2 linked regions of the Homo sapiens genome follow. The protein of the gene in region 2 purifies or fractionates together with the protein of the main gene of each other region. This does not show direct contact. Each region holds a gene or a part of one and is shown on either strand. Other genes may lie near its edges.

Evidence for each region.
Region 1: the proteins of TLR7 (region 2) and EPDR1 purify together in Homo sapiens (affinity purification with mass spectrometry; one large-scale study listed by BioGRID and IntAct). This does not show direct contact.

The regions. Positions count from the first base shown.
Region 1 is NC_000007.14:37,925,878-37,930,925, forward strand, and holds part of EPDR1 (mammalian ependymin-related protein 1 isoform 1 precursor), read left to right. Parts: intron 1-5,048. UniProt on the Homo sapiens protein: Binds anionic lipids and gangliosides at acidic pH.
Region 2 is NC_000023.11:12,864,319-12,870,668, forward strand, and holds the start of TLR7 (toll-like receptor 7 precursor), read left to right. Parts: upstream 1-2,753; 5' UTR 2,754-2,805; intron 2,806-3,162; 5' UTR 3,163-3,260; coding exon 3,261-3,263; intron 3,264-6,350.

The DNA.
Region 1 (5,048 bases), on a different chromosome or scaffold from region 2:
TTTTAAATTTTTTCTCAATCTGTCCCATTGTGTAGACAAATTAATTCAAAGTTCTTTTTCTTCCTTCTCTTTTTCATCTAAGCCTGTGCTTATGAGTAGAAAAAGAGAAGAGGCTACCTTGAAATGCCTCGGGCCCAAACTCAGAAGGCTCTGCACTCAACTGAGCCTCCCTTCCTACTAAGAATGGAATAGTGTTGCTTATAGGGGTGTTGGTCCAAGTATCAGCTGTGGATGATTAATTCCCAGGGCTGCTATCACCTAAGGTAACTTCAGTAATCTTATGTGTTTGGAAAGGAGGATGAGGATTATTTTTCAAATACATAATTTTGTTTTATTTTGAAACAATCTCACACCTACAGAAAAGTTGCAATTATAATACAAAGAGCTTCCCCCTCGCCTGAACTGTTTGATAGTAAGTTGCCAAACTGATATACCCACGATCCCCAAATGCTTCAGTGTATTTCCTCCCAGCAAGGACATTCTCCTGCATAACCACAATACAACCATAAAAGTCAGGAGATTAACACCAGTTCATTTTGACCATCTGAAATTCAGGTGTCATTCATGTTTTGCCAGTTGTTCTTTGTATGTTCTTCATAGCAAAAAAAAAAAAAAAAAAAAGATTTAAATGCAAGCATTACACTTAAGTGTGGTGTCTCTGTGGTCTCTTTCTGTCTGGAATAGTTCCTAAGTCTTCCTTGCACTTTAGTGCTTTTAAAGATTGCAGGCCAGTTATTTTGTAGAATGTTCCTTGATTTGGGTTTGTCTGATGTTTCCTCATAATTAGATTCAAGTTACTTACCTTTGGCAGGAATATCAGGGATAATACTCTGTTCCAATTGCATCCTGATGTTCACTTTGATCACCTGATTGACTGTTGTCTGCCAGCCTTCTTCACTGTGAAATGATACATTTTTTCTTTTTAATTAGTAAGATTTGGTAGGGAAATATTTTAAAACCATGTACATATCCCATTCTTCATTAATCTTCTGAATTATACTTTATTTGTATCAGTGTGGACTCAAGCCTTCTAATTTTGTTCTATTTGCTCTCGTTGTTTACTTTGCTGTTCATAATGTCCTAGATTTGGCCAGTGGAAGCCTCTTCAAATTGGTTTCTATGTTCTTTTGATGTGTTTGGGCACTTCCTTGCTTTCCGGCACAGCAAGATATTTCAAGATCATCTATACTTTTCCTGCCCCAGTCCTAGGATAAACCATTTTTCAAGAAGCCCTGGTTACTTTTCCTGGAGAATAATATGTGGAAGTTAGAACCTGTGCTCTGGTCATGCTCAGTGCTATCAGGTGGCACTGCTACCAGGTCCTCTCAATGGACAAAGCAAGGGGTGTTAAGTTTGAATACACACATCCCTCCCCACACACACTCATACATATATACACATTTACATCTATATTTATTTCTGAACCTCCAGTTCTAATCCATACAGGTGTTTAAACTGATGCCTTCATTCTAATCCAACACTACATGGTTCATTCTAGTTTTTTTTTTCCTTTCATTTTTGCTACTCCCTTCTCAGCCAGTGAGAAAACTGGCTTACTATTCAATTGCAGTAGGTAACCAGTCATGTATCATTACGCTGTCTCCTTCACACATGGGCTCTGCGCTCCAGGCCAGCCCATGTAGAAGCCTATCTTCCTTGGTCCTACCTAGTGGCTTTAGTCTAAATTGTTCAAGAGAAAGGAGTAGATGAAATTATGTTCTTAACATATGTTTGTATTGCTTTTGGATTCTCAGTATGTCATCATTACAAATCCTCAGAGGGTGTTTCTGTGTGACTGGGGGAGGCAGACTAATATAAAGTGCTCAATAAATCTATTTGATCATGAATCTTGTCTTGCATGGATTGGATTTTCATTTTAAGAAATCACGACTTTGTGAATATTAAGAGCATGACTTCTCCTTTGACCTTTACTCCATCATTTTGGTCTCAGATGGCTGGAGATAGCATATTCTTTTGTGAGCTGAGGAAGTCTTGACTGCTTGTGGCCTCCTGATCCTCAAAGAATAAACCATACTGATTTGCAATACTTGAGTTTCGCAATATTTGAGTTTTTCTTCAAGAAACAGATTTTCTTGGAAGCACACAAAGTTTGATTTAAGGGACTTAATTCAGTGTGTCTATAGACCCTGGATTTCAGACAATTAATGCTGAGATGGGGAGGGAGAAGCAGGCACTGGGGAAAAAAGATCCAAAGAAGATAAGCCCAGGAGAGTAAGGAGGCTGATGGAATGTAAGACAAATTTACGAATGGAAGCCAGAGGTGGTCACTATACTGCTTTGAAAACATCTTTACTTTCTCCAATAACCTTGAGCTGTTTCTTCCTGATTCTGACCTTGAGGATGGTGGTCAGGGGCAAAGTGCCCAAAGATCTGAAAATATTCCACCAATTAGTGGTTTGTTTTTCCTGGAATAAATATGATAGTCTTAGATTTCACCAATTCCAGTAAAAAATTTCTATTTTCCCCCTTAACATTTTCTTTTATTTTACCCATCTTTAAATAAAAAAAAAAAACTTCTCTTGATCTTACCAGCTGAAATCTCATTCTCCTCTTCTATTTAAAGCAAATCTCATGCTAACTACAATTTTTGTACTCCCATGCTCTCTTGAACACCCTCCAATCACTTTTGTCACCATTCTATTGAAAATACTCTGGTCAAAAGCAAGAAGCTCTACATTACTAATCAACCAATCTTTGATCAGTCCTCATCTTATTGTAGATTAATTCCCCAATCTTGATGCACTGTCTTCACTTGGCTTTCAACATGCTAGTCTTCTGGTTTTCCTTCTCCCACCTTATTTCCTCTCCTCAAGCCTTTTTGCTCTTTCTGCTCTTCTCTGGACTGCTAATAGTGGACTCTCCCAGGGCTCAGGCTCTCATCTCTTTATGTTCCTACCTATACCCTAATTTTGATATATACTGAATCTGACCATACCTCTACTGTTATTCTGGCCCAAACTTTTATTATGTCTCGGCTGGATGTTTATGATAGCCTCCTAACAGTTGTCCCCACTTCGGACCTTGCTCCCTTTAGTCTGTTCTCCACATAGAAACCCCAGGGGTTCTCTTGAAAATACGTCATGCCACTTCTTGGCTCAGGATCTGCTCCCCAGCCTTTTCCCTACCTTATCTCTGTCACCAGCTCACTCATTGTGGACCTGGCCTCAGCACGCTGACCCCATTGGCACTTGAATCTGTCATTCCCTCTGCCTAGAAAGACTTTTTCCTAAGAAGCTGCATGACTTACTCCCAAATTGAACTGTTTCTCTGCTCAACATTCTCAGTGCCCCCTCACTGCTTTATATTAATATATCCAAGGCACTTATGACTATCTGGCAGAGTGTTTAACGTTAAAGTTTGTTCCTTCATCTCCCCCACCTTCCCTCATGCACAATAAGGCTCCGTAAGGCCAGGGGTTTTGTATGGTTGTTGCTGTGTCTCTAACTCCTCAGAACACTTTACATTCTTTTCAACATACTATGTGGGACCTAAACGAATACTTGTCCCATATGAAAAGAGCTGTGTTCTGATGTCGGAGAAGGCGATTCCCAAGCTCCATTTTCTAACTGCTAAGAGCAGGGCCTGACTAATTTTTATTTTTTTTTGAATCAGTGAATGAGGGAAATGAATAACTGATAATATACATTCATTGTAGAAGGATACCTAAATAATAGATATGTATTTTCTTTCCTTTTTTCCTTATAATTAAATTTCTTAGACAATAAAATGATAGATTTATGTAATGGTTTCATGGTTTTTCATTTATATGTTACGTTATACCTCTTTTCTGTTAAGAATGATTTTTGACATCGAATTACACTGCAGTGTTTTGAAAAGTTTTCCAGTAGGGTTGAAGTGGAGGGCACACCACCACCTCCAGAGAGTGGATGCCCCAAACTCCTTTCGCCCATGAGCCACTCCCCCACTGCCCTCTCATCAAACACTGTCTTCAGTGTCTCTCTTGTGCCTCAATTTCAATTTTGGGGAATTTCACCCAATGTGGGCATTTGAGATTTATTTCTAAAGCACCCACAGTTTCTCAGAAGCAGTGCCTTTTTGAGTCGGGAGGCCATCTGAAGAGGAATCAGATCCTTAGCAGGGTGCCTAAGTTACCCTCAGTCCCCCCAAAGAAAGGAGAAACTCTTGGGATGATGGCTCCCCTAAAGAAGGCAACTTCTCCTGGAGGAAAAGGATATACATGCCTTGGATGACTCCTGCCCGCTCACAGAAGGCTGCTTTTGTTGTGGCTTAAAGTTAGATCTTCTGGTAGAGTTCTAGAATGTGGGCCCTGCCGATGAGTGACAGCCAAAAGCTCACCTTGGAAGAGGCACCAGAGTCACAGCCCCAGCTCTCTCAGGGAAGACGCTGCTCCAGAGCATCTCAGAAGCCACCAGGGAAGACAGTGGCAGATGGGAAGCCGGTGGTGCAGGGCCAAGGGCACAGCTCTGCCTGACGCAGCATTGTCAGCAATAGGTAACATATAACTTATGAGGAGTATCTGAGTACCAGCAGGCACTCTTGGGAGTGAAGGATGGGGGAAGAGAATCTGCCCCAGACTTCATATCCATTGGAAATGCCACATCAGGTGCTGTATCTTGGCATGGATTGTGTTTCCTGTAGGTGTGGGAGTTCTTCTTCTCACAGTCAAGCCCTCCACCTGTCCCTTGTCACACACCCTGTCCTTTTGAATAGAAATTCTCATCCTAGCCCAGCTTCAGGCACGGCCTGGCTTACCCTTGGACCCCAGAGATCTCACCCTTCTGAGGTCTCAACTCTCCTTAAGGAGTTAGGAAATGAAGCTTGGGAATCCACTTCTCGGACATCAGAACACAGTTCCTTTTGCACAGGACAAGTATTTATTTAGGTTCCACTTAGTATATTGAAAAGAATTTGAAGTGTTTTGGTGGTTTGTAGTCCTCTTTCATCATGCTGAATCAAGCCTCAAAAAGGTCAATTTCTGCAGTTGTTAAAACACAGAGGAATTTTTATAGTGTGTGTGTTTGCATAAGTTTATAAGGAGCTTTGTC
Region 2 (6,350 bases):
CAAGCCCCAGTGAGATGAACCCAGTACCTCAGTTGGAAATGCAGAAATCACCCATCTTCTGCATTGCTCACGCTGGGAGCTGTAGACTGGAGCTGTTCCTATTCAGCCATCTTGGAACCACCCTACAGTTTCTTTCAATACTTTTCATGTTCAATGTCTTACACTTAAATTTTTCAACTACATGAAATTTATTTTGATATAAGAAATGAGGTTGGGCCAGGCGCAGTGGCTCACACCTGTTATCCCAAAACTTTGGGAGGCTGAAGTGGGCGAATCATGAGATCAGGAGTTCAAAACCAGCCTGGCCAATATAGTGAAACCCCACCTCTACAGAAAATACAAAAAATTAGCCGAGCGTGGTGGCGGGTGCCTGTAATCCCAGCTACTCGGGAGGCTGAGGCAGGAGAATCGCTTGAACCTGGGAGGTGGAGGTTGCAGTGAGCAGAGATTGCGCCACTGCACTCCAGCCTGGGTGACAGAGTGAGACTACATCTCAAAAAATAAATAAAAAGACAAATGAGGTTGGACAATAGCTTGATTTTTTAAAAACTCCAAGCCAGTTGCCCAATAATCCATTTTGCCATTGATGTGACTTGAAACTAAACACCCATATGTGCTTTTACTTAATTCTGCTCACTTCTCAGTTTCACTGATGCACTGGTACTATGCCATTGGAGGCAATACAGCATTCTAATGCATTTACAGATATGGAAGAGAAATCCTCCCCTTTTATTTTCATTCAGAAATTGCCTGGCTATTCTCACATGTGGTCTTACCCCAGTCAGACCCAACACCTCACTTTTATAACAAATATTTGGTAATGCACCCTTTGTTATATGAAAGGAGATATTTGTGGATAATGTAACCCCAGTCTTCATGATAAACAAAAAGGCCCAGCTGATTTCCAAAATGCACCCCAGTTTAGAATCAGTCTGGCAAGTATCACATGAAATCCTATTGGTATTTGATTGGGATCACACAGCATTTGCAAATCAATTTAAGCAACATTTCTATTTTTACAATATTGTGGCCTCTAGCCCCAATAACAATTATTTCTCTTCATTTACTTATATCTTTGTGTCTGGGCAGGGTCCTGCCAGGAAACAGACGGCATGTTAAAGTGAGAAACTGATGAGTTCAGCAAAGTGACTATTTATATATTTGGACAGGATTTAAGGAAGTAAGAAAGGATGATGCAACACTTCAGAGGGGAGTCTTTCCGACCTCAGGCTGAAGGAGAAGGAACGATTACTGGAATTCAGGGAGGAGAGCATCACCAAACAAGAGCTTCATTAGAGGACTGCAGCCAACGCAGGGCCAGGCGGAGGGAGCCAGAGGGAGGCAGGCTCTGCTCTCCCTCTTCCTGCCCTTCAGTTTCCAACCACGGCCTCCTATTGGCCAAACCCAACCAGAAGCCAGCGAGCAAGGGGCTACTGATGAAGCACATATAGCTCAGCCTCCAGAGACACAGAACAGGATAAAAGGCTGAGACAGTGGGTCTGGTGGGGCAAAGAGAAAGCTTGCACCTGCCAGGTAAAGCATTATAGTCCCCATCCTCCCCCCACCACCTTAGTTCTTGTGCATTTCCCATCAGTTTTCTTCCAAAGCATTTCAGATCTCACTGATTTGAATGGGACCTCTTCTTCTATTACCAATTTGGATCAGTAATTATTTATGTATGAGAAAACTATTGATTTTTACATATCGTTGCATAGCAGAGTGGTTTAATAAGGAGACATTTGGTTTTTACTGCCTGTGTGGGTATCACTTGCTATGTGACTTGAGGCAAATCCAATATTTCTTCTGTTATAAATTCCAGTATTTGTAAAAAATGGGTAATAAGATCTCTATTTTATATAGTTTTAGTATTTAATGAGATAATACATATAAAGTCATTAAAACAGTGTCTGGCTCATAAAAAACCCTCAATAAATGTCACTTATTACTGTATCTGGTTTTTGAGCTGCTCTATTGCACCATTGAGTTTTCAGCCCAGTATATGTTAACCCTGATCATTATCTGCAGAAGTCCCCGTGCCACACTCTACATCATCCAAATTCTCTCCAGGTGGACTAAGTAGATTAAAGAACTTTAAACATAACTACCATATTTTGGCTCTATCTACAAAATGTCCAATAATCAGTTAAGAAAGGAACAATTCTCTTGGGGCCCACACTTTGAGAAGCAAATGCAGCTGAACTTTTTTAGAGGAAAGTGAGTGAACCAACTGGTAGCTTTGCCACTGCTTAAAAACCAGCATCCTTTCCAGCTGGGTCTAAGACAGAATAAGGTAAATTTAGATATGTCTCTAATATATCTATAGAACAGTGGTTCTCAACCCGGGGTGTTTTTGCCCCTTAGGGGATAATTTGCAATGTCTGGAGACATCTGTGATTGTCATAACTGGAAGGGGGCAGTGCTATTGGCATCTAGTGGGTATAGAGCAAGGGTGCTACCAAATATCCTATGGTGCAACAGAGAATTATCTGGTCAAAAATGTAAATAGTGCTGAGGGTGAGAAACCCTGCTATAAAAACGAAAGAAATTTGGTCTACAGAGTTGTTTGGATTTAGACAAGACGTTGCCCCAATAGTGGTGATAGAAATAAGAGGAACCCCGTGCTTTTGCAAAGCCCATATCTGGGGTGGCTTAAATAATCATGCTCCTCCCCATCCCCCGACCTGATCTTTGTAGTTGGAAACTCCAGGGCTGGCTGCCTGTAGTCTTTGTGACTACACTTCCTGCCTCCCATCACTTCATCTCAGAAGACTCCAGATATAGGATCACTCCATGCCATCAAGAAAGGTATTTTAAACATTGGAACACATATAGATAATTTAAGTAGGTAGATGTATGTGCTGTTATAAGGAAGTGGGGAGGAGAGAAGAGGGAACCGAAATCATATGCACAAAAATTTTTTTTAGAATATAAATAAAAAATGTGGTAGTCTAAAATGTCAATTCTTCAAAGATAAAGTTAGGCTTTCAGTAACGTTAGAAATGGTTTTCTGGAATATGTCTCCAGTCTACCTAACTTTGAGGAAGTAAATACTGTAAATAGATGTTTCAAACGCATTTTAAAGCAATGATCCTAGCATGTCTTTAAGCTACAGTATTGTGCTGTCTTTGAAATGTAAACTTTGATGTCTTCTCTTTCTCTTAGTTGATGCTATTGGGCCCATCTCAAGCTGATCTTGGCACCTCTCATGCTCTGCTCTCTTCAACCAGACCTCTACATTCCATTTTGGAAGAAGACTAAAAATGGTAAGAACAGCTCAGAGAACCTTAAAAAGTGTTATCTGTAATCTTTGTGGAAACAACTGAAACCAGCTGGCAAGAGCAATATTGAAGAATCTGTACTTAGGTTATTTGCTGGGGGAAAGTGCTTCCTGATATTTCACAATTGGCATTAATGAAGGGGGCATGTCACAATTTCAGATTAATCAACGCTTGCTCTGTTCAACTTCCTACAAGAATTAAATATGTGCTGTGGGGAGGAGGAGCAGATGTTTGAATTGGGGACATAGCTTCTATGTATCTCATTTCTTCAGCCTACAATTTTGGCTTTAAAGCCATAACAAATCACTGAATTACTGAAGTTACTTTGTGCTTTTTCCAGCATATGGTGTTGTCTTAATGACTGTGTGGATGAAAGTGTGTGGGCAGGCTCATAGCAATAAAATACGGGAAATCCCCGGGCTTGAGTGCTGTCAAAGAAAACTAAATTTGGACAGTAGATAAAGATACTATCAGGACTATTGCAATCGGCAGAAAGAGACCTCAGTATAGAAAGGGGCTCAATTCCAAATACAGCCAAAGACCAGTAAAGATTTCTGGCCAAGGAGTAGAGTGGGGGTCAGTGGATGGAAAATTACTAAGAGGAAACATCAAGGGTAAAAGGATTCTGGCTAAACCGACCTGACAGGATTCTTGCTGAAGACAGGCCAGGGTGATCAGACCTCACCTGTGGATGGTGGGAGATGAGGAATTTGATCAGATATTGAGGGTGATCACATACCAAGAGGAGTGGATTATCAATAAAATGACTTAGCAGGATTCCTGCTTGAACTGGGCAATGCAAAGATGGACATGAAGCCAAAGGCCGAAGCCTAGGGGTGTAGTAGAGCCTGATTAAGTTGAATTAAGGAGAGTCTTTGTCAGCGCTGGCTCTCCCAGTCACTAGTTGGGGGGGCCTTGTGCCTGTCATCAAAGTCCTCTGAAACTCAATTTCTCTGACTATGAAATAGGCATTAGAATCCCTCCCCTGTTGCCTTCCAGGGCCACTGTGAGGCTCAAATAATAGACTATTTTTCAAGTCCTTTGCAAGTGGTATGATGCAAGTGTGAGTTATTAGGTATGCCAAAACTTAGTCGGAAAAAGACGTCAAGGGCCTTTTTCTGAAATTATTTTGTCACTTAAATCAGACACATTCTAGATCCGAATGTTAGCTCCTAGGCTCATTTTGTGTCAAAGTTCTAATGAAGCATTAACCATGGGGCTATTGTTACAAAGGAAACAACTGCTTACGGTTTCATTTCCTAGAAACCCAGATGTCTATTTTAATGCAAACCTATGCCCACATCTGTCTTTGCCCCTTGATGGGTGGCATAATGGGAATGATAGTAATACAGAGAGCTCACATTTCTTGACCACTCAACTATCATGCTGAGGGCTAGATAGACATGATTCTATTTTGGCCTCAAAGTAGCCCTATAAGGTAGAGATAACGAAACTGGGGCTTTGAGAGGTTAAGGAGCTTGGGTGGCTCTGAAAGCTGTGCTGAAGACTCTTCTGTTCTTCCTAGACCAAGCCCAGCACACACGCAATAAAGATGAGGTTGGATATGATGGCTTCCTACTCAAGTACAAAGGGGAAATAGTATATCTTTTCTAAGAAAAGACGTGAAAATAATTTTCAATATAAGAAATTCAAAAGGCAAAAAAGCACAGGGAAAATATTCAACTGTATTGAGTCATATGGCAGATCCTTTGATCTAGAGATTACACTTTTAGAAACTCTTCTTAAAGAAGTGACCATGAGACTGGATAAAAAAATGTGGCACATATACACCATGGAATACTATGCAGCCATAAAAAGGAATGAGATCATGTCCTTTGCAGGGACATTGATGAAGCTGGAAGCCATTATCCTCAGCAAACTAACACAGGAACAAAAAACCAAACACCGCATGTTCTCACTTATAAGTGGGAGCTGAACAGTGAGAACACATGGACACAGGGAGGGGAACAACACTCACTGAGGCCTGTAGGAGGAGGGTGGGGCAGGAGAGAGCATTAGGGTAAAAAGCTAATGCATGCTGGGCTTAATACCTAGGTGATGGGTTGATCTGTGCAGCAAACCACCATGGCACGTTTAACTATGTAACAAACCTGCACATCCTGCACATGTACCCCAGAACTTAAAAAAACAAGCAATAAAATAATTTTAAAAAAACAAAAGAAGTGATCGTGGACATGGAAAACTATTTACCAAGATGGTCAGTGCAGCCAGGCAAAAAAAAAAAAAAAAAAAAAATCATGTCCCATGTTGGGAAGGGGTGAATTAATTGTAGTAGACTCATTAAATGGAATATTATGTAATCATCAAATCATGTTTTTTAAAATAATACTGAATGACCTAAGAAAGCACTCATGGTATAATGTTAAATGAAAAAAGCAAGCTAGAAATGGATAAGTACCGTGTATTCCTCATGTTTTTACTGCACCTGCTAGGCAAATACTAGATGCTCACTAAATGTTGGATAATCTGTGATGATGGTTTACATAAACACATGTGTTGCATATTCTAATTTCATTCAACATCCCTACTTTATAACCATTTTACAGTTGGCAAATCAGAGGCTCATGAGGTCAAGTGATTTATGAAAGTCAGAGAGCTCTTACATGACAGAACAAGGACTTAAAACCAAATTTTTGTACTGACAAAGCCTTGGCTGTTACTAGAATGCTTCTCACCATGTGAAATAGATGCAGGGATGGGAAATTACTATTAGAAGGGACCATCTCCCAAAATGTCAATAGTGGTTCAGCAAATTTAAAAGTAAAAATATTATTCTGCTCTTAACCTATAGGAAATTTCTTTATGGCTAAAAAAAGGTTATTAAGTAATCAATTTATTAAATTAATACAATCTGATTATTTAAAAATTTGGAACGCTGTACTAAAATTAAAAATCATCATTACAGATTAACCAGCCAGTACCTCTGCACCCCAAGAATAAATAATGTATATCCCCGAAACTCACCGAAGTTTAGGGCTGGGGTTGGCAAACTATGGCCCATGGGCTATATCCCACCTGCTGTACAGCTCATGAGCTAAGGGGTTTTTTTTT